Homo sapiens: one gene and its partners. The protein of the gene in region 2 purifies or fractionates together with the protein of the main gene of each other region. This does not show direct contact. Each region holds a gene or a part of one and is shown on either strand. Other genes may lie near its edges.

The links.
Region 1: the proteins of INKA2 (region 2) and NOSIP purify together in Homo sapiens (affinity purification with mass spectrometry, with the first as the bait; one large-scale study listed by BioGRID). This does not show direct contact.
Region 3: the proteins of INKA2 (region 2) and YTHDF2 purify together in Homo sapiens (affinity purification with mass spectrometry, with the first as the bait; one large-scale study listed by BioGRID). This does not show direct contact.
Region 4: the proteins of INKA2 (region 2) and MYO5A purify together in Homo sapiens (affinity purification with mass spectrometry, with the first as the bait; one large-scale study listed by BioGRID). This does not show direct contact.

What each region holds. Positions count from the first base shown.
Region 1 is NC_000019.10:49,559,882-49,565,495, forward strand, and holds part of NOSIP (nitric oxide synthase-interacting protein), read right to left. Parts: intron 4,410-5,614; exon of another isoform or gene 4,276-4,409; coding exon of another isoform or gene 4,274-4,275; intron 812-4,273; coding exon of another isoform or gene 811-811; coding exon 741-810; intron 159-740; coding exon 53-158; intron 24-52; exon of another isoform or gene 1-23. UniProt on the Homo sapiens protein: E3 ubiquitin-protein ligase that is essential for proper development of the forebrain, the eye, and the face. Catalyzes monoubiquitination of serine/threonine-protein phosphatase 2A (PP2A) catalytic subunit PPP2CA/PPP2CB.
Region 2 is NC_000001.11:111,722,396-111,725,895, forward strand, and holds part of INKA2 (PAK4-inhibitor INKA2), read right to left. Parts: 3' UTR 1-3,500. UniProt on the Homo sapiens protein: Inhibitor of the serine/threonine-protein kinase PAK4. Acts by binding PAK4 in a substrate-like manner, inhibiting the protein kinase activity.
Region 3 is NC_000001.11:28,742,285-28,747,898, reverse strand, and holds part of YTHDF2 (YTH domain-containing family protein 2), read right to left. Parts: intron 5,497-5,614; coding exon 3,913-5,496; intron 1-3,912. UniProt on the Homo sapiens protein: Specifically recognizes and binds N6-methyladenosine (m6A)-containing RNAs, and regulates their stability. M6A is a modification present at internal sites of mRNAs and some non-coding RNAs and plays a role in mRNA stability and processing.
Region 4 is NC_000015.10:52,521,183-52,526,796, forward strand, and holds part of MYO5A (unconventional myosin-Va), read right to left. Parts: intron 3,021-5,614; exon of another isoform or gene 3,000-3,020; coding exon of another isoform or gene 2,901-2,999; intron 1-2,900. UniProt on the Homo sapiens protein: Processive actin-based motor that can move in large steps approximating the 36-nm pseudo-repeat of the actin filament. Can hydrolyze ATP in the presence of actin, which is essential for its function as a motor protein. Involved in melanosome transport.

The DNA of each region.
Region 1 (5,614 bases), on a different chromosome or scaffold from region 2:
CGGTTCCCTTGCTCTCCCCACCCAGACCTACCCATCCCTGTTCCCAGCTCACGTGACAACAGGATCGTGGCAAGGCTGCAGGGAGAGACAACAGCAGTCGAAGTCCTTCACGGCATCCCGGCTCAGTCGAATGTTCTGGGTCCCATAGCCCGAGGCCGCTGGGGACAGAGATGGGCAGAGTGATGGAGGGGCGGAGCAACAGGAGACATGTCCGTCTCCAAAGCCCCAGAGAGAGGCACAGAGACAACGCGGTGGTGGGGGTGGGGGACTCAGAGAGAAACAGGCAGTTGGGAGCCGCTGCCTGTGTGCTGGGGCCACGGGCTGAACCCACAGGGAGTTGTCAACCCTGGAGGGTGAGAGGCAGACAGGCCTGGTCACTGAGTGGCAGCTTGGTGGAGGGGCTGACGGCTGACTCCCCTCCACCCTTCTGACTGTGACCAAGCTCAAGTGCCTGTCCCTCTTTGGGCCTCAGTTTCTTCCTCTGGAACATGGGGTAACAAGAGCACCCTCCCTGACACTCTGTTGGGAGGAGTGAGTTCATGCGCAGAAGGCAGAGAACACAGTGCCGGGCCACATGGGGTCATGGGATCACCCAGCTGTTGTTTACATGGTCATGGCCATCAGTGTATATCGGGGGCGGGAGAGAGACAGGGACAGAGGAAGCAAAACCTGGGGCACGAGGGGAGAGGGTGACTCCAAGACACAGCCATGTCCCGCCTCTTCCCACCCCAGCCCTGCACCTGTGTCCTTCTTCTTCTCGTGGTAGGTGTAGACGGCCCCTGCGGTGCAGTTCTTGCCATGCCGCGTCATCCTAGGGAGGAAGGGACAGTGGCAGGACTGTGGTTACCGGAGGCAGGCAGCACAGGGAAGACCTCTGCAGCCCTCAGAGCTGATCTGCCCCCCTTGATGGGAAAGCGGAGGCGGAGAAGGGGGGTGAGGTGGAAGAGAGGGAGGGCATGTGGTCGCCAGGCCTCCTCCAGGAAGTCCTCCTTCCAGACTCACCTAGACTCATTTATATGTGAAAATAGCACCTTTAACAACAAAACTCTTTGTTTGGAGGTAAGAGGGTGAGAGACCAGAGTTCAAATTCTAGCCACTACTTCAGATTAGCTAGGGTGGTGGCTGTGCCATTTAATGGAGGGGAAAAAAAAAGACACCAAGGGGGCCACTATTGTTGATGAATCCACTCCACCTTCCCTTCCCCTCTCATATCTGTAAGCTCTGACTGAGGCCAAGGCGTGGACCAGCCCAGTGATTGGCTCAAGGCTGGGCACTTAGCTAAGGCTTGACACTTAGCTAAGGCTTGACCCAATCGCTGCCTGCCAGTCCACTAGCGACTGGATCTAGCAGCTGTGATTATGTCTCAGATCGACCGATCAGAGGGCAGGTCAGAGTAGGGCTCTGTGTCTAGGGGAAGAGCTACCTCCACTCCCACTGCAGGTAAAGGAGGAAGAGAAGACCCCAGAACCCTGGAGCTCAATTCAAAAAGCAAAGCTTTTTTTATTCTGTAAGTTTTCAAACACATACAAAACCAGAATAGTATAAGGAACCCCCATGATGTACCCATGTCCTGCGGTCCAGCAGCTGTCAACATTTTGCCACCTTACTTTGATACCTTTGATCATTCCCCATACTTAAGGGCAACCCCCACCCTTTTAAATGACTTTATTGAGACACAATTCACATACCATAAAATTAACCCTTTTAAAGTGGTTTCAGACCAGGTGTAGTGGCTCACGCCTGTAATCTCAGCACTTTGGGAGGCTGAGTCAGGTGGATCACTTGAGTTCAGGAGTTCAAGATCAGCCTGGCCAACATGGTGAAACCCCGTCTCTACTAAAAATACAAAAATTAGCTGGGCGTGGTGGCACACGCCAGTAATCCCAACTACTCGGGAGGCTGAGGCACTGAGAATCACTTGAGCCCAGGAGGCAGGGGTTGCAGTGAGCCGACATCATGCCACTGCACTCCAACCTAGACAGAGCAAGGCTCTGTCACAATTAAAAAAAAAAAAAAAAAGACATTGCCTAAGCCAAGATAATGCACATTTATTCCTATGTTTTCTTCTAGGGGTTTGATCATTTTAACTTTTACTTTTTGAGTTAATTTTTGTGTATGGTGTGAGGAAGGGAGCCCCCTACTTTTCTGGAGTTCATTTGTAAAAGGAGAAGCCCTGAACCCACAGAGGCTGGGCAGCTTTCACCAAGACTGCTTGGCCAGTAAACAGCCTGCATGCCTGTTTGTTTGTTTGTTTTTTGAGACGGAGTTTCACTCTTGTTGCCCAGACTGGAATGCAATAGCATGATCTTGGCTCACTGAAACCTCTGCCTCCCAAGTTAAAGCGATTCTCCTGCCTCAGCTTCCCAAATAGCAGGGATTACAGGTGCCTGCCACCACGCCTGGCTAATTTTTTTGTATTTTTAGTAGAGACGGGGTTTCACCGTGTTGGCCAGGCTGGTCTTGAGCTCCTGACCTCAGGTGATCCACCTGCCTCAGCCTCCCAAAGTGCTGGGATTACAGGCGTGAGTCACTGTGCCTGGCCCCTGCAGGCTTTTTTATCCCTTAAAATGATTTAGAGCCAGGCTCAGGGCTCACGCCTGTAATCCCAAAACTTTGGGAGGCTGAAGCAAGAGGACTGTTGAGCCCAGGAGATGGAGATGAGCCTAGGCAACACAGCAAGATCCATCTCTATTAAATTTAAAAACAAAGAAGTTGATGGCCAGGTGCAGTGGCTGATGCCTGTAATCCCAGCACTTTGGGAAGCCGAGGCGGGGGCGGATCACGAGATCAAGAGATCGAGACCATCCTGGCCAACATGGTGAAACCCTGTCTCTACTAAAAATACAAAAATTAGCTGGGTGTGATGGCACATGCCTGTAGTCCCAGCTACTCGGGAGGCTGAAACAGGAGACTCATTGAACCTGGGAGGTGCAGGTTGCAGGGAGTGGAGATTGCACCACTACACTCCAGCCTGGTGACAGACAGAGACTCTGTCAAAAGAAAAAGAAGAGAAGAGAGAAGATCTAGTAACATTATATACTTGTCTCACTCATCTCTAAGTTGCCACCTAAAAATTCTCCCAAGCTTAAACAGTTGCAAAGGATACAATTTCCAGCAACGTAAATGTGTAGCTGATGGAATCTAAATACTGTAATAATTTGAGACCATTTGAAAAATGCAAGAAAAAGCTGTTTCAACAGCAGAAAATTATACATGTCCTGTTTTTCTCTTTGAACTTGTATTTCCGTTCCACTTCCCTCTCTGCCACCCATTTTTAATCTAACATCGTTTTTTCTTTTTGTTTTTTTTTTTGAGACAGGGACTCACTCTGTTGTCCAGGCTGGAGTGCAGTGGTACAATCACAGCTCACTGCAGCCTTGACCTCCTGGGCTCAAGTGATTCTCCTGCCTCAGCCTCTCGAGTAGCTGGGACTACAGGCATGTGCCACCACGCCCAGCTAATTTTTATATTTTTAGTAGAGATGGGGTTTTGCCATGTTGCCCAGGTTGGCCTTGAACTCCTGGACTCAAGTGAACTCCTGGCCTCCCAAAGTGTTGGGATTACAGGTGTGAGCCACTGCACCTGGCACATCATATCTTTTGTGCTTGAAAATTCTTTTTTTTTTTTTTGAGATCGAGTTTTGCTCTTGTTGCCCAAGCTGGAGTGCAATGGCACGATCTCAGCTCACTACAACCTCCGCCTCTTGGGTTCAAGCAATTCTCCTGCCTCAGCCTCCTAAGTAGCTGGGATTACAGGTGCATGCCACCATACCCAGCTAATTTTTTGTATTTTTAGTAGAAACAGGGTTTTACCATATTGGCTAGGCTGGCCTTGAACTCCTGACCTCAGGTGATCCACCCGCCTCGGCCTCCCAAAGTGCTGGGATTACAGGTGTGAGCCACTGTGCCCAGCCTGAAAATACTTGCTTTAGTGATCACCCTGTTATATGTCTCTGCAAGAAATAAAAAATATGGATAGGAAATCCTTTTAAACATTTCCCATTGTTCCTAGGCTATAAGAGTCCAATACTCTTCTAGATCAGTGGTTCTCAAAGTGTGGGTCCTAGGACCCTGTGGTCCCCCAACACATTTCTAGACAGTCTGCAAGGTCAAAACTGTTGTCTTAATAATACTAAGACATTATTTGCCTTTCTGATTCTCATTCTCTCACAAGTACACCAGAGGCTCCATGAGGTGTGACACTGCAACACTAAATTAGTAGTAATTTGTTACAACAATGATAGGAAACTAATATAGTCACCAGGGAAACGCACATTAAAACTTCACTGAAGGCCGAGCACCGTGGCTTACACCTGTAATCCCAGCACTTTGGAGGCTGAAGCGGGCAGATCACTTGAGGTCAGGAGTTCAAGTCCAGCCTGGCCAACATGGCAAAACCCCATCTGTACTAAAAATACAAAAAGTTAGCTGGTCGTGGTGGTGTGCGCCTGTAATCCCAGCTACTGGGGAGGCTGAGGCATGAGAATCGCTTGAACCTGGGAGGCGGAGGTTGCAGTGAGCCAAGATCACGCCACGGCACTCTAGCCTAGGGGACAGAGCGAGACTCCATCTCAAAAAAAAAAAAAAAAAAAAAAACAAAATAAAACTTCATTGAGATACCTCCCCACACGCACCACAAGGGTTGCAATTAGACAGAGGGGTGCAGGCGAGGACATGGAGCTACTAGAACCCTCGTGCACTGCTCAGGGGAGTGCAGACCAGCACAACCACTTTGGAAAGCAACTGTCAGTATCTACTGAAGCCAGGCATATGCCAGTCCTATGAGCCAGCAATTCGTCTCCCACGTATACACCTAACAGAAGGGTACACCTGTTTACAAGACACATACACTGCCCTATTCACAATGGCTCATAAACTGGAAACTACCCCATGCCTGTCAGCACAGAGTAGATAAAGAAACTGGGCCATATCACATAATGGAAACACCCAGCAATGAGACACAACAGCCTACTGTCATACCCATAGTATAGCTGAATCTCACAGACACCACGCAGGCGAGACACCAGACACGCAAAAGAAAACTTACTGTATGATCCCATTCATGTGACGTTCAAAAACTCACAAAGTAATTACTACACCAGAAGTTATGTGTGGGTGGGTGTGGTGGCTCACACCTGTAATATGAACACTTGGGGAGGCCAAGGCAGGAGGATTGTTTGAGCCCAGGAGTTTGAGACCAGCCTGAGCAACATAGCAAAACCTTGTCACTACAAAACATAGAAAAATTAGCTGGGCATGGTGGTGCATGCCTGTAGTCGCAGCTACTTGGGAGTCTGAGATGGATCACCTGAGCCCAGGGAGGTCAAGGCTGCAGTGAGCCATGATTGGGCCACTGCACTCCAGCCTGGGAGTCAGAGTGAGACCCTGTCTCAAAAAAAAAAAAGTCAGGTGCCTTTGGGAGGCAGAAGGTGGGGGTGACTAGGAGGGGCACAGGTAGCATCTGGGAGGCTGGGAATGTTGTTTCTTGATCTGGGTGCTGGTTACATGGGTGTGTTTGCTCTGAAAGTCGCTGGGTTAGACAGTTATGCTTTCTGTACTTCTCTGTACATGTTATAAAAAGAAATTGGCTGGGTGCCATGGTGCACGCCTGTAAT
Region 2 (3,500 bases):
TTACAGAGCAGAAAGAGCAGACCAGAGGCTTCTCAAAACCACTAGGACTTGGCACTTTCAACTCTTTACCCCTTGCCAAGAATTTGAGGTCCTTAAGGGTTGACTGTGAGGGGCAGCTAGGGTGTAGGGAGTGGGAATGTTTCCTAGAGCAGGTCCTTAGGCAGTGGGGTCCTCAAGCACCTTTTCTCCAAGCTCAGCCTTTCTCCACCTCCACACCCCCCGCCTCCCCAGTGCATGTCATCCTTTGGGGAACAGTGTAAATTTGCCATTTAGCAAATAACAGCCCATCTGGGTGGCTAGTATACAGTGTACAAAAACATGTCACCTATTGTCTTCTCTGACCCTTGCTACAATCCTGTGAGATATTAAATCAATATAAATGTTTCGACAGAAGAAGAGACCAACGCTCAGAGAAAGCACTTTTTCTTAAGCACTTTTGCCTTGGGTCACATGGTTAGTGCCTCTACTAAGGGGATGGGTTGTCCAGTATCTGCTGAGCTTCTGCTGTATTCCAGGCAGTGCTTGGACCGTAGGTGCATTATGTCCTTTAAATCTCACAGCAGCCCCACATTATCACCTTTCACAGATGAGAAACACAAGGTTCAGAGAGATCAAGCAACATGCTCAAGCTTCCACAGTGACAGAGGGGGCTCTCAAATCTTAACTCCAAGTCTAGTGCTCATACCATGGTGCTGGCAGAAGTGCCTTAACTGCACCGGATGGGGAAGGCACCTGAGGTGGGTTCTGGCTGCTCTGGAGAAGGTGGGGACAAGGTGTGCTCTTGCTCTTGTCCAGACCACGTAGGAAACGATGGTGTGACTTGGGAAAGATGGAGGAGCCTCTCCCCAACAAGGCCCTAGGGAGGAGATGGGGATGTGGAGAGGACAGAGCAACCTTCTTTGGGGCAAGTTTGGGTTCAGAGATCACCCTGAGGGGCGGGGCACAAGGGAAGTGTCTGAGGGAGAGGGAAAAGAGAGGTCCCAAGTCTGAAAGGTTGGGAAGAGAAAGGGAGGAGGGAGACCAGGCCGGCCCCACTAGCATGCCCAGCAGGGACTCTTTTCTGTTCCCTGGGCCACAAAGAAGCAGGTGGAACCTTCCACAGATACCTGGGCCAATCAGGTGGCCCTTGTACCTGCCAGGGAAGTGGGGCAGGGTGGGGTGGGGCTACATGTCAGGGAGGATATTAAATGAGCTTCTAGCTCATTTGCATGTCCTAATTAACCACAAAGTGCGCCCCAGAGGAAGAACTAAGCTCTCTGATTTCTCTCTGCTTACGTCTGCTATCTCCTCCACATACACACTGCTTACCTCTCCCTACACCTTCCTGTATACTTAGGCCCTAGGCATTTGCATTCACCTCTTCCCTCCACTTCAGTAAAATACAGCCTCTGTCATTGCCATGGCAGGTGTCCAGGGGGAAGGGAAAAGTAAGTCTCCATCAGACAGTCAGCATGCCATTTATGATCCACGCAGGACCATGAATAATATGAGAGGACAGATTTTGCTCTTGTTCCTCTTGATTTGGCTTTGGAACAGATATGGACAATTAGTGGGATCGTCTGAAAAGCACAAGATTGCAAGTCAGTTGGAACTGATTCAATCTCAATTCCACTACTGTGTGACCTTGGACAAGTTGCTTAACTTCTCTGAGCCTGTCCATGTAAAACAAGAGCAACTGCTTTCAGTGTGTAGTGAGAAGGAAGTAACAGAGGTGAAGGTGCTGGCACTTGTAAATCATGTTGGCAGCAAGTGTTGCTTCCTAATTTTTTGTTCTGGCCCAAGTTGAAACAAGTTTTCAGTCTCCCAAGTCTCTTCTGACTAACCAATGGTTCAAAGTCTGCTTATTTTCCACTGCATCCATTTGAGAGCAGGAGTTGGGTCCTTCTCATTGCTCTGTTCTTAGTTTCTATAACAACACCTGGTGCTGGGAGGTGTTCATAAAGTTCTGTTCAATTTATCCGAACCACTGTGACCAGTCCACGAAACACGTGAGTTATAGGTGAATGTCCAAGAAGTACCTTGGTTTCCCACAGACTCATTCCAGACTTGGAGCTGGTGTCATCTTGAATAATATGCTAGATGGCTTCTCCACCAGCCAGTGTCCCACGACTTCCTCCGCTCATGATTCAGTAGGTGGAATCTTAACATGCAGTTTCTTAGCACGCGCAGGCACACACACACACACACACACACACACACACACACCACCACTACCACCACCACCACCACCACCTCCACCATCTCCACCTCCAAAGGCAGTCAGAGCCAACGTTCCCTCACTCAAAACTGAAATGTTGGTATTCTCTGGGAAGACACAAAGGATTTGCAGTGGCTGGCTCCACCAGAGTGGGCTTGCTCAGTTGGCAAACTCCAGGTAGAGAAATAGCAAGAAAAGGACAGGGGTTTTGGAGCCAGATAACCCAACCCTCTGTTCAAATCTCTGTCCTTTCCTTTGCTAGCAGCCTAATCGGGGCAGTTTACACGCCCCCTAATAACCTCCATAGATGTGTCTGGAGAACAATGCCTTCTAGGGTCCTTCTAAGTTTGAGAGATGTGCACATTACCTGACAGACAGTGAGTGCTCAACAAAACCCAAAAAGCATGAGCGCCTTCCTCCCTCCTGCAGCTCCCCCACCAAAAATGAAACATCTTACCATTTGACTGGGTAGGATTTGAGAGTGACCCTAACCACCGCGGCTGCGCCCCCATAATCCCATCTTGAGCTCTGCCCCTCTCTCCACTCTCCCCAGGGATCCAGGAAGCAAGCAGAAGAGCCTTTTCTTACTATTTTGCCTCTCCAACTGGCTATTAATGCTTTGAGGGTGGGAAGGAATCCTGCCTCTAATTGCAGCTGTCACACCCCATCAGGCTGAGGGACAATCAGTGGGAGGCAGAGAGGGGCAGTGGGAGGGTGTGCCCTCCTGGCTTGGTCAGCCCAAAAGAAGATCCACATTGTCTTTTCCCAGCCAGTGAGTGTTCCCTACTGGAGTGGGAGGGACAGTGGCTTCCCAGGGCAGTCCTGGGGGGGGGCCTGGATCACTAGGTGGCCCTCCTGGGCCACGTGCCCAGAGTGGCTTTAGAGAAGCCGGAGCTGAGCTGCTGCCTGGCCCTTCCCCCTCCGTCCCGGCTGCCTCTAGGTGAGGAGGGAACAGGAGGCCTGGGACTGCTGTGTCTAGTGGGGAGAAGGCCACGGAATGGAGCTGGGAATTTTAAAATCAAGTGGCTATTTCTTCTGGGTTCACTTCTACCTCACTGGTGAATTGGCTGTTCTCTGACCCAGGTGGGAGTTAAGTGCAGGAGACAGGGGTTGTGGGGTATGGGGCCCTACGAACTGTTTTTTTTTATTTTTTTTGAGACAGGGGAGTCTTGCTCTGTCAGCCAGGCTGGAGTGCAGTGGCATGATCTCGCCTCACTGCAACCTCCCTCTCCCGGGCTCAAGCAATTCTCCTGCCTCAGCCTCCCAAGTAGCTGGGTTTACAGGCGTGTGCCACCACGCCTGG
Region 3 (5,614 bases), about 83 Mb from region 2:
CCGCCTCAGCCTCCCAAAGTGCTGTGCTTACAGGCGTGAGCCACCGCGCCCGGCCAGTGCCAGCAGTTCTTACAAGAGAGTAAACTAAAAAGTAACCTGACAGAAGTATAATTGAAGCCTTTATTTGGTGGTTTGCTCACCGGCTGAGAACTAGGATACTCACTTATCAAGAGTCTTTATGGGCTGGGCGTGGTGGCTCACGCCTGTAATCCCAGCACTTTCGGAGGGAGAGGCGGGAGGATCACAAAGTCAGGAGATCAAGACCATCCTGGCTAACACAGTGAAACCCCTGCACTCCAGCCTGGGCGACAGAGTGAGATTCGTCTCTCAAAAAAAAAAAAAAAAGTCTTTATGGAATGGTTTTTTTTTTTTTTTAGACAAGTTTTGCTCTTTCACCAGGCTGGATTGCAATGGCTCAATCTCAGCCCACTGCAAGTAGTAGCTGGGATTACAGGCACCTGCCACCATGCCCAGCTAATTTTTGTATTTTTAGTAGACACAGGGTTTCACCATGTTGACCAGGCTGGTCTCGAACTCCTGACATCGTGATCTGCTCGCCTCGGCCTCCCAAAGTGCTGGGATTACAGGCATGAGCCACCGCGCTGGGCAATGGTTTTTAAAAAGAGCCATTAGTTAGCTTACCAAAGACGCTAAATTCTGTTTACTATTGCACTCATTCTATGAAAACATTAAAAGGCTGGTCAATTCCAACAAACGAATCTTACACCTACATATCAAGTTCAATTATCATTAACTGAACCACTCTAGCAAACATAATCAAAATACATACTTGATTAAAAGCTGAATTTTTTTTTTGAGACAGAGTTTCACTCTTGTTGCCTAGGCTGGAGTGCAATGGCACCATCTCAGCTCACTGCAACCTCCGCCTCCCAGGTGTAAGCGATTCTCCTGCCTCAGCCTCCCAAGTAGCTGGGATTACAGGCATGCACCATCACGCCCAGCTAATTTTGTATTTTTTAGTAGAGACAGGGTTTCTCCATGTTGATCAGGCTGGTCTCAAACTCCTGACCTCAGGTGATCCGCCCACCTCGGCCTCCCAAAGTGCTGGGATTACAGGCGTGAGCCAGAGCCTGGCCAAAAGCTAAATTAACAAAACCTAAATTTGCTACTTGTTTGTTTAGACAGAGTCTCTCTCTATCGCCCAGGCTGGAGTGCAGTGGCAGGATCTCAGCTCACTGCAACCCCTGCCTCCCGGGTCCAAGAAATTATCCTGCCTCAGCCTCCCAAGTAGTTGGGATCACAGGTACCCACAACCACACCCAGCTAATTTTTTTTTTTTTTTTTGTAGTATTTTTAGTAGAGACGGGATTTCACCATGCTGGCCTCAAACTGCTGGCTTCAAACTGCTGACCTCAAGTGATCGGCCCGCCTCTGCCTACCAATGTGCTGGGATTACAAGCATGAGCCACCTGCGCCCAGCCTGCTACTCCATTTCTAAACCCATATTTCTTCATCTGGCCCCAGCAATGCAAAATTGAAAAGAAAATCACCCTGTATTTCCCCACTGGCCCTAACACATACAAGTCTATCTTAACAACTATGCTGTGCATTAAATTCATCATTTCCTTCCTGCTTTTAATCACAAGATGTAGGACAGAATTTTATTATAAAGATTAATAAGATAGTACACATTTCAAGTGGACAAACCAAGCACCTAGATGCCCCTCAGACGTCTATAAATCTGCTATGCTACTAAAAGATGCCTAAAAGATCATGGCCTCCTTACTTGTCCCTCTAGAAACAGAAGCCTGATGACCATTTAGAGCCCTTCAGATGTCTAGCAAAAAGCACCAATAAACTATCTTTTTCTACAAAATACTGTAAATTTTATTTATTTTTGATACAGAGTCTCACTCTGTTGCCCCTGCTGGAGTGCAGTGATGCAATCATGGCTCACTACAACCTCTAACTCCTGGACTCAAGGGATCCTCCTTCCTCAGCCTCCAAAGTAGCTAGGACAACAGGTGTGTGCCACCATGCCCAGCTAATTTTTTCTTTTTTAGAGAGATGGGGTCTCACTACATTGCCCAGGCTGGTCTTAAACTCCTAGGCCCAGGCAATCCTCCTGCCTCGTCCTCCCAAAGTGTTGGGATTACAGGTGTGAGCCACCACGCCAGGCCAAAATATGTTAGTTTTTTTTTGGGGGGGGGGGGCGGGGGGAGATGGGAGTTTAGCTCTTGTTGCCCAGGCTAGAGCACGATCTCGGCTCACCGCAACCTCTGCCTTCGGGGTTCAAGTGATTCTCCTACCTCAGCCTCCCAAGTAGCTGAGATTACAGGCATGTGCCACCACACCCGGCTAATTTTGTACTTTTAATAGAAACGGGGTTTCTCCATGTTGGTCAAGCTGGTCCTGACCTCAGGTGATCTGCCCACCTCAGCCTCCCAAAGTGCTGGGATTATAGGCGTGAGCCATGACGCCAGGCTTAATATGGAAGACTTTAAGTTAAACTATTAAACTGTGGGGAAGAGAGGAGTTTAAAGGACTATCAAAAAGGAAGTTTATTAGCCAACTTTTCAATAATCTGGTTCTCCATTCCCAATGCTTTTAGTGTCACTGACAAGTGTAACTCCCATTTCTTATTAATCTGTACCCACTGAAAGATAAAATAGCAACCATCCCTACTTTAACAACTATGTACCTCCAAGAAGATTGTACCAACGAGCCCTTCCTCCACTGCTAAAAGGAGTAAATTCTCATAGAGCAGCCTAACAATGCCTCAGATCCTAGATCACGTATAAGATCCCTATGAATTCATAACAAATTTAAGGAAAACATTGCTTGTTAGACTTTATTTTATATTTGAGATTAATCAACTCAGGATTCTCTCAACCACTAATACACAGATCTTCAAAGAAAAATTTCTCCTTGCTCATAAACTTTTCACCTACTTCCTACATTTAACAATGTCTAGGCCAGCTGCAGTGGCTCACACCTGTAATCCCAGCACTTTGGGAGGCAGGGGCAGATCACTTGAGCTCAGGAGTTCAAGACCAGCCTGGGCAACATGGCAAAACCCAGCTCTACAAAAAACATGAAAAACTAGCCGGGCATGGTGGTGCATGACTGTGATCCCAGCTAGTCACGAAGCTGAGATGGGGGGATCACTTGAGCCCAGAAGGTGGAGGCTGGAGTGGGCGGACATCATGCCACTGCACTCCAGCCTGGGCAACAGAGAACCCTGTCCAAAAAAAAGTAAGTATAAATCCCAGATAATATATCATTATCTGCTCCAACCAGTTTTATCATCCTCTTATAATCCTAAAGTTTACATTCACTCAATACTCACAGAGCAAACGCTACCAACTCTTTCAAATTCAACTCTAGTTTGAATCCATTCCTCATCATTCTGCCCAAGATTCCCACTTGTTACAGAGGAAATCAGAAGTGACTCTTTTACACCGCCAATTGTCACAGGGAAGACAGAAGTGATTTCAAGAGTTGGTGATGACATATTGACTCTTGAAAATAACCACAAAACCCCAGCTAGGCCAAGTTAATCCAACAGAGAACATTTCGATTTTTCTCTGCCATATTATAGACTCAATCTTCTGCTTTAATTTCTATGGTTTTATCACTTCCATTACCCCTCTGCATCTCTTTGACTCATTCTTCACCTCTTTCTGCATCATGTACTGTTTCTGTCTGATTTCCTTGTACTGTTTTTGCTTTCCTTTCAAAGTCCGTATTTCTGTCCTCTACTAATGTTCTCACATTCCTTCACATTAGGGTTCAAGTATTAAAACCAATTATACTTCTATAAAGCCTTGAACTGTTAGGTGATACTGTATTCATTTACAGAGTTTTTATTAACGGTTCACTATATAATACCTCTTCTGTTCTCTCTGGTTCCTCCTTCCCTAAAAATCTTAATAAGAAGAAGTGGGTTACCTTTTTAACACTTTCTTCTTCCTCTTGGCGTTTCTCATAGTGTGAGAAGTCATCAAAAATGGAAGTGGTGTGCTTGTAGCTGGCTATAATTTTCAACACCTGCTTAGCCTTTTCCAGAGGCACTTCCTGAGTGTCCCTAGAGTTGGTCACTGGTTTATTCTCGTTGTTCTCTAGGCGAATGTGTCGCAGTTGGCTATTGGGAACGTCCTTCACAAAAATCCACCTGACATCAAAACGACCCTTCCATTTGTCCTGGGACCACACACCTGCACATGTGTTGTAGTCCACAGCAGATTTCATTTCTGCCACGCCACAGAAGTGTCCACTGCCGTTGACACTGAAAAGTAAGTAAACGGGGCCTTTCCCGTTCATGGAACGATAAGCAGCATCCAGTCTCTTGTTACCATGCTCTGTGCTGCACCAAATATTATACTTAATGGAACGGTGAATATCGTCCTCAGAGTAGCTCTTAATGATGAAAACCCGGCCATGTTTCAGATTCCAGTCAAAATCTTTGGGGTTATAGTTATTAATGGACCGAAGCTTCTCCAACACTGGGTGGGGTTCTGAAGGAGTAGATCCAGAACCAGCCTGAGACTGTCCTACTCCATTACCATCCACCCCATTATGACCGAACCCACTGCCACGGTTCCGAGGTGCTACCCAGCGGGTTGGCTGAGCTGCCTGTTGCTGGACTGAAAGCTGGGCAGGCTGTGGTGGAGGTGGAGGCAATGGCTGTGTCTGTTGCCCTACTGATGCCTGAGCCACTGGTGGGCTATTGTTAGCCTGCTGACCTACAGGCTGAGGAGACCCCTGGGTTGGCTGACCTATATTCTGAACCAAAGCCTGTGAGGGGGCTTTTGCAACGGGACCCTTGTTATCCCAAGTTCCAATATCCATGTTATGCTTTATCGGGGGTGGCGGAAGACTTGACCCTGCAATGCCATTCTTGGTCTTCAGTTTAGGTTGCTGTTTTGCAGGCTTGCTAGCAATATCAGCCCAAGATGCTGGTTTTGGAGGAGCAATGGTGGCTGGAGGCAAACTATTGGAAGCCACGATGTTACTAGTAATGGACCCGCTACCAACAGCAGAACCTACAACTTTTGGAACATTGCTTGCAACTTCTGTGCTACCCAACTTCAGTGCTGCCATCCCTTGGTCTATAGTATTCATGCCAGGAGCCTTATTGAGGGTCTCATTGGCAAAAGCTGACTGTCCATCAATCATGGCTCCACCTAAGGAGCTAGGTGCATAAGCATAATTGCTACTATATCCAGAGCTCTGAGTAGACTGTCCCTGAGAACTGTTATTTCCCCATGCTGAGAAGTCAATCCCACTGGGAAAGAAATTAAAACCATGCTGACCAAGAAATGGAGTGCTACCTAGGGCTCCTGGTTGCCCAAACATTGCATCTGGTAGGAAGTGGGGCTCTCCGTTGCTCAGCTGTCCATAAGAAGTTAAGTAGGGCATGGCTGTGTCACCCCCCGTAGACCAAGCAGCTTCACCCAAAGAATAGGAGAAGCCAATGGAGGGACTGTAGTAACTGGGTAAGTAGGAATCTGACATGGCAGTATATGCATTATTCTGTGGAAGAAAAAAAAAGGCAAATCAAAACACAAAAAATTAACATCAGGCTATTTCCTCCCCCCACCTAGTCACGCAATTCAAATATACTATAAAAAGGAGTGTGCAGGCCGGACGC
Region 4 (5,614 bases), on a different chromosome or scaffold from region 2:
ACGCCACTGCACTCCAGCCTGGGTGACAGAGCGAGACTCTGTCTCAAAAAAAAAAAAAAAAAACCTCTACTGTATTCCCAGCTCACCTTCATCTTTCTAAACTAGAGAGTTCGACACCTTTAATCTGTCTAGCCTCTTCACTGCCCTGATCATTTTACTTCTCCTATTCTGAAATTTCTCTAGTTTCATGTACATTTGTCAAGAAGTAGAAACCCCAACCACACATGCAGGATTCCTGGCCAGGACTATATGTTTTTGTATATGTGACAAAAGATGGACAAAACCTATCTTTTTTGTGCATCCAGTCTCCCTCTAGCCCAGCATCTTGCCCACATTTTTGGCCACAGTAGTACATTAGGCCACAGGAGGTAGATACATGGTCCTCATGAACACTTAGTGCATTATGTACAATGCACTTCTCCCTTGATTTCAATCAAGTTTAGAACCATTATTTTGAAATCAAAAAATAATTACATCATCCCTAAGTTCTACAATTGGCAAAAAGCCTTTGCTGTACAAGGAGATATTTAACGCTAATGCCTGCTAGTTAAAAAGAATTCCAAGTGAGGAGGGCTTAGAAGAGAAATGGAGAATGCCTGAGGCATGAAGAGCCAGGGATAAGTTTCTGCAAAGTTTAGGTTGTATCAGCACAAACTCAGACTGATGTTACAACCAAGACAGATGGGGAAGAGGAACCGTTAAAGGGCAAAATTAACCAAAGGGCATTTCAGAAGGCATCAAAGGCAGACATCATTAATAAAGGCAAAGTGGTCAGTGTGTGAAGGAAAGATTAAACAAAAATCATCTAAACTCCTTTTATATCCACTTCCGCCTCCCACTGAAAATGAAACTCCACAGCCATGATCTCCAATGCCAGGCCTTTGTAATAAGTATCTCTATTGGTTGGGCTAAGGTGGAACCATAGCATTCATTTCGGAAAAACCAAAAAGAAAAAACTTCCTTCTGCCCTAATGAGCAAGCATAACTCCAGTAAACTCCCTGAAGATGTTGGGGAAGATAAGAGACAAAGCACAAGGGAACTTTTGGGGTGATGGAAATGTTCTGCATCTTGTTTGTGGCGGTGGTTACATGACAGAATATATGTGTCAAAACTCATCAAACTGTACACTTAAAATGAGGGACTTTTCAAGTATATTATACCTCAATAAAGTTGATGAAAGATTGGGAGTGGGGTGGTGCTGGGGAGAAAAGGACAAACTCCCTAGGAAGATAAATAGAATAAGTCTAGGAAGACCACTGTAGGATGGAGGACATGCCTTCAGGTGAGGTGGAAGAAGTGGAATTGCTCACATAATATTTTGTCTATGGCCAGACCTTACTCCACAGATCAGAAGTTTAGACTTCCAACAGTACCTCATACTTCACTGGGAATTGCCTGAAGTGGAGACAAATACATCCAAGTCTATCCTCTAGTGGACCACGTACTCCTGAATTCTCCCAATGGAGGCAAAATTCATCATAAAATGAAAAACAGAGAAACTAAATTACCTTCTGAGGTAAGAAGTAAGGCGGATCATCTCTCCTCTCCCACATTCTCCCATACACGAGTTAGCATTCCCTGTCACCCCTCCCCTGAGGTTACAGTTAAATCCCTGGAAGCCCATTCATAAAGCTTCCTCCAGTTCTCTTTCATTATTTAAAAAAAAAAAAAAAAAGCTAAAAGTACCAGGAAGATCTAAAATATGTGGCAGCAGCAATTCTCATTAGAATCAGAATCTCTCTGTAATCTTTTCTGGACAATACACAAAACTTTCACACTTCAAGAAACAGTAACAAATTTCAAGAGGAAATAATGGGCATTTTGCTTTGTCAAGCTATGTAAAGAAGTATTTCTTAGTAGCATTCAAGTTCCACAGAGGCAGTCAAAATTTGTGATGAAACAGGAATTAATTTTCAGTTTCCAAGTCTGGAGCTACTGGCATTATTTCATACTACTCCTGCTCCTTCCCATCCTATATGTAATCCATCTCGGAGAGACCTGTCTCTCGGATTTATCCTCTTCTTTCCCACACCTTCTGCCCCTGCCTCAGTCCACCAGACCTTCACCACTTCACATTTTGTTTCCTGAAAGTTTCCTGGTCTCCCTGGTTCCCAGTTCTATTACTCATCCTGTTCAACATGCCTGAAAATGTGTTTACTTGTTTAACCACATCTTTATACCCTGCTTCGTCCCTACAAGTGGACTGATCATGCCAAACCATTATTTTCATTCCATCCCTCCCCTGCTTAAGTATTCATTCAACAAATATTCAATGAGCAGCTATTCTGTGTAACACTGGGCTAGGCTCTACAGGAGGTAAACAAAACAGCATGTCAGGGGGCTTAGAGTATCGTGGGAGTGGTAAACATATACACAAATACAGTAACCGTAATAAGACAGAAACATGTTTGGGACATTAAGACAGAGAAAAAGAGTACTAGTGGGAGTTCCAAATCTGAGCTATCAGCTGGATGTCAACTGAAATTAGAATTGATATAGAAGAAGTCGAATGTGAAAGACAAGAAAAAAGATACGGAGGTTTCCAAGCTGCGGAACTAGGAGAACAGCAAGTCGTTAACAGGCCTAGGAACACCAGGAGGAAATTCAAATGGAAAGGGCATGACAGGAGACTTGAGGACAGCTAACATCCTTGCCAAACTCCAAGTCAGGGCACATGATCAGAGATGAGATTTCTGTTCCTCTTTAAGATGTTGGAAGCAGTCTGAGAAATACAGTCTCGACATGAAAATATTAGAATTTCCAAGATCAGTAGTTTGAAGAGACAGTGCCATAGAATATAAAAGTGGATCTATCCCAGAAAAAATCTAGGCCATGTGGCTCCTGTATATATGAGAGGATATGTTGGGAATGGAAAGTTACACATATACAATCTACTGACCTTAAGAGCTGTTTCATCTAGGCAAGTTAACATGCTTTGCAAATGTGGAATTTTAGATTGTCTTTGCACTGTTACAATACTCAGCATCTCAGCACACATGGGAACCTCCTAATCAAACAGCTTCAGGTAAAAACAAAACAAAACACAAAAGTAAACAAAAAAATTAAAACTTTTTTAAAATTAAAAATAAGCCAGGCATGGTGGCTCATGTCTGTAATCTCAACACTTTGAGTGGCCGAGGCAGGAGAATCATTTGACCTGAGGAGTTAGAGATCAGCCTGGGCAACACAGCAAGATCCTGTCTCTGTAAAAAGTACAAAAATTAGCTGGGTTTGGTAGCACATGCCTGTAGATTCAGCTACCCAGGAAGGTGAGGTGGGAGGATGGCTTGCACCTGGGAGGTCGATACTGCAATGAGCCATGTTCACACCACTACACCTCAGCCTGGACAACAGAGTGAGACCCTGAACCTAAATAAATAAATAAATAAATAAATAAATAAATAAATAAAATAGGCTGGGTGTGGTGGCTCATGCCTGTAATCCCACACTATGGGAGGTGGAAGCAGGAGGATCACTTGAGTCCAGGAGTTTAAGACCAGCCTGGGCAACATACTGAGACTATCTCTAGAAGAAATTTAAAAATTAGCTGGGTGCATAGCTGTGGTCCCAGCTACTCACGAGGCTGAGGTGGGAGGACAGCTTGAGCCCAGGAGTTAAAGGCTACAGTGAGCCATGTTCATTTCACTGCACTCCAGCCTGGGTGACACAGTGAGACCCTGTCTCAAAAAAAATAAAAAATTAAAAAAAAAAAAACCCAGCTTCAAGTAATCTTGACCATCCTATAGCATGGATACCATGGTGCTATCCATGGTGTCTGGGAACATGATGACAGGAGGAATAGCATGCCATTCATTATAATGTTCCCGATAATCCTTCTAGGTCTAATTGATAAACCCTACTCCACAAATGTAGAATTGCTTCTAGTTACCAAAAGCACCTATGGATGATGTATGATATAGATATCCACTGGCAAGTCAAGACTAGCAAATATTTTCAAAATCAGAAGCAATGAGATATCATAGTTTCCTTTAATTCTTTTGGGAGCAAGGCAGGTTGACCACAAACACATCAACATACTACTCTGTGAATAAACCAAAAACCATTGAATAGTACACTTTAAATGGTGAATTATATGGTATAAGACACATATCTCAATAAAGCTGTTATTTTTAAAAATCAACAAAACATGTTTTAACCAAAATATTCGTTTCCAGACAAGTATCCCAAGAACCTAGCTATTGTCCTTAAAATGTTTATACTGCTGGAAAAACTTACAAAATGGAAGCCTTGTTAAATTGCTGTGACAAAACCATTACCATTCTGGCTAAAAAGAAGAAATTGAACAGTCTCTTGTCCTTCACTGTAATAGGAACTGATCTGTATCACACATTAAAATCTGCCCTTAAGATCTGAATGACATTTTTTTAAAGAGCACTTTTCAGATTTAACCACAATGTTAAATACCATAATTATGGCATATCACTAATACATCTTTCCTTGTAATCTATCCTAGAACTTCCTTCCTATAATCCTCTGCAAGGGGAAGATCCTTGTGCTTATCCACTGATAATACTTCTAATGATTTTCCTATTCCTCTAGTAATTACAATAGTAGTTTTTATCTCTGGAATCAGCCCAACCTTCCCCATGTCCCAACCCATTCCCTAACTTCTACTAATAAATATCATACCAGCTGTCTGCCTGCTGTTGAGGTAACAGCAGGTTATTTATGCCCCTATAGATTCAAAGTGGGTCAAGAATGTAAGAAGCAGACTATGAGCGTGTTGAGGGAAAGGACTGTATCTTGTTCATTGTTAAATCCTCTAAACATTAAGCAAAGTACCTGGCACACAGGATGCCTGATAAGTATTTCTGCTTGCCATTAAGCTAAGGCCCATTCACAAAAAGAATTTGCCAACAAATAACCAAGTAACCAGACTATTAATTAGGCATAAGTATATTTAGAAGAAGGCAGTGTAAGCCCCAACTTCAGTCTTGATCTCTAAGCCAGTCTGTCTTTATAATGACAAAGAGGTTAAAAAAAATTTTTTTTCAACACACGGTCTTGCTGTTTTGCCCAGGATGGAGTGCAGTGGCACAGTCATGGCTCACTGCAGCCTCAACCTCCCAGGCTCAAGCAATCTTCCTGCCTCAGCTGATCATCCTGCCTCAGCTCTCGAGTAGCTGGGACCGCAGGCGTGACTAACTCGCCCAGCTAATTTTTATTTATTTATTTATTTATTTTTTGAGACAGAGTTTCGCTCTTGTTGCCCAGGCTCGCGATCTTGGTTCACTGCAACCTCCGCCTTCCAGGTTCAAGTGATTCTCCTGCCTCAGCCTCCTGAGTAGCTGGGATTACAGGCATGCGCCACCACGCCCAGCTAATTTTCTATTTTTAGTAGAGACGGGGTTTTGCCATGTTGGTCAAGATGGTCTCGAACTCCTGACCTCAGGTGATTCACCCACCTCGGCAACGTGTTGGGATTACAGGCGTGAGCTACCGTGCCCAGCCTAACTTTTTAATTTTTTTGTAGAGACCAGGTCTCATTATGTTCCTCAGGCTGTTAAAAGGTAAATTTTAAAATAGATTGTGATAAAGCTGTGACAGAAGCCCAAAACTTTACCATTTACAAATCACAACATCTTTTCAATT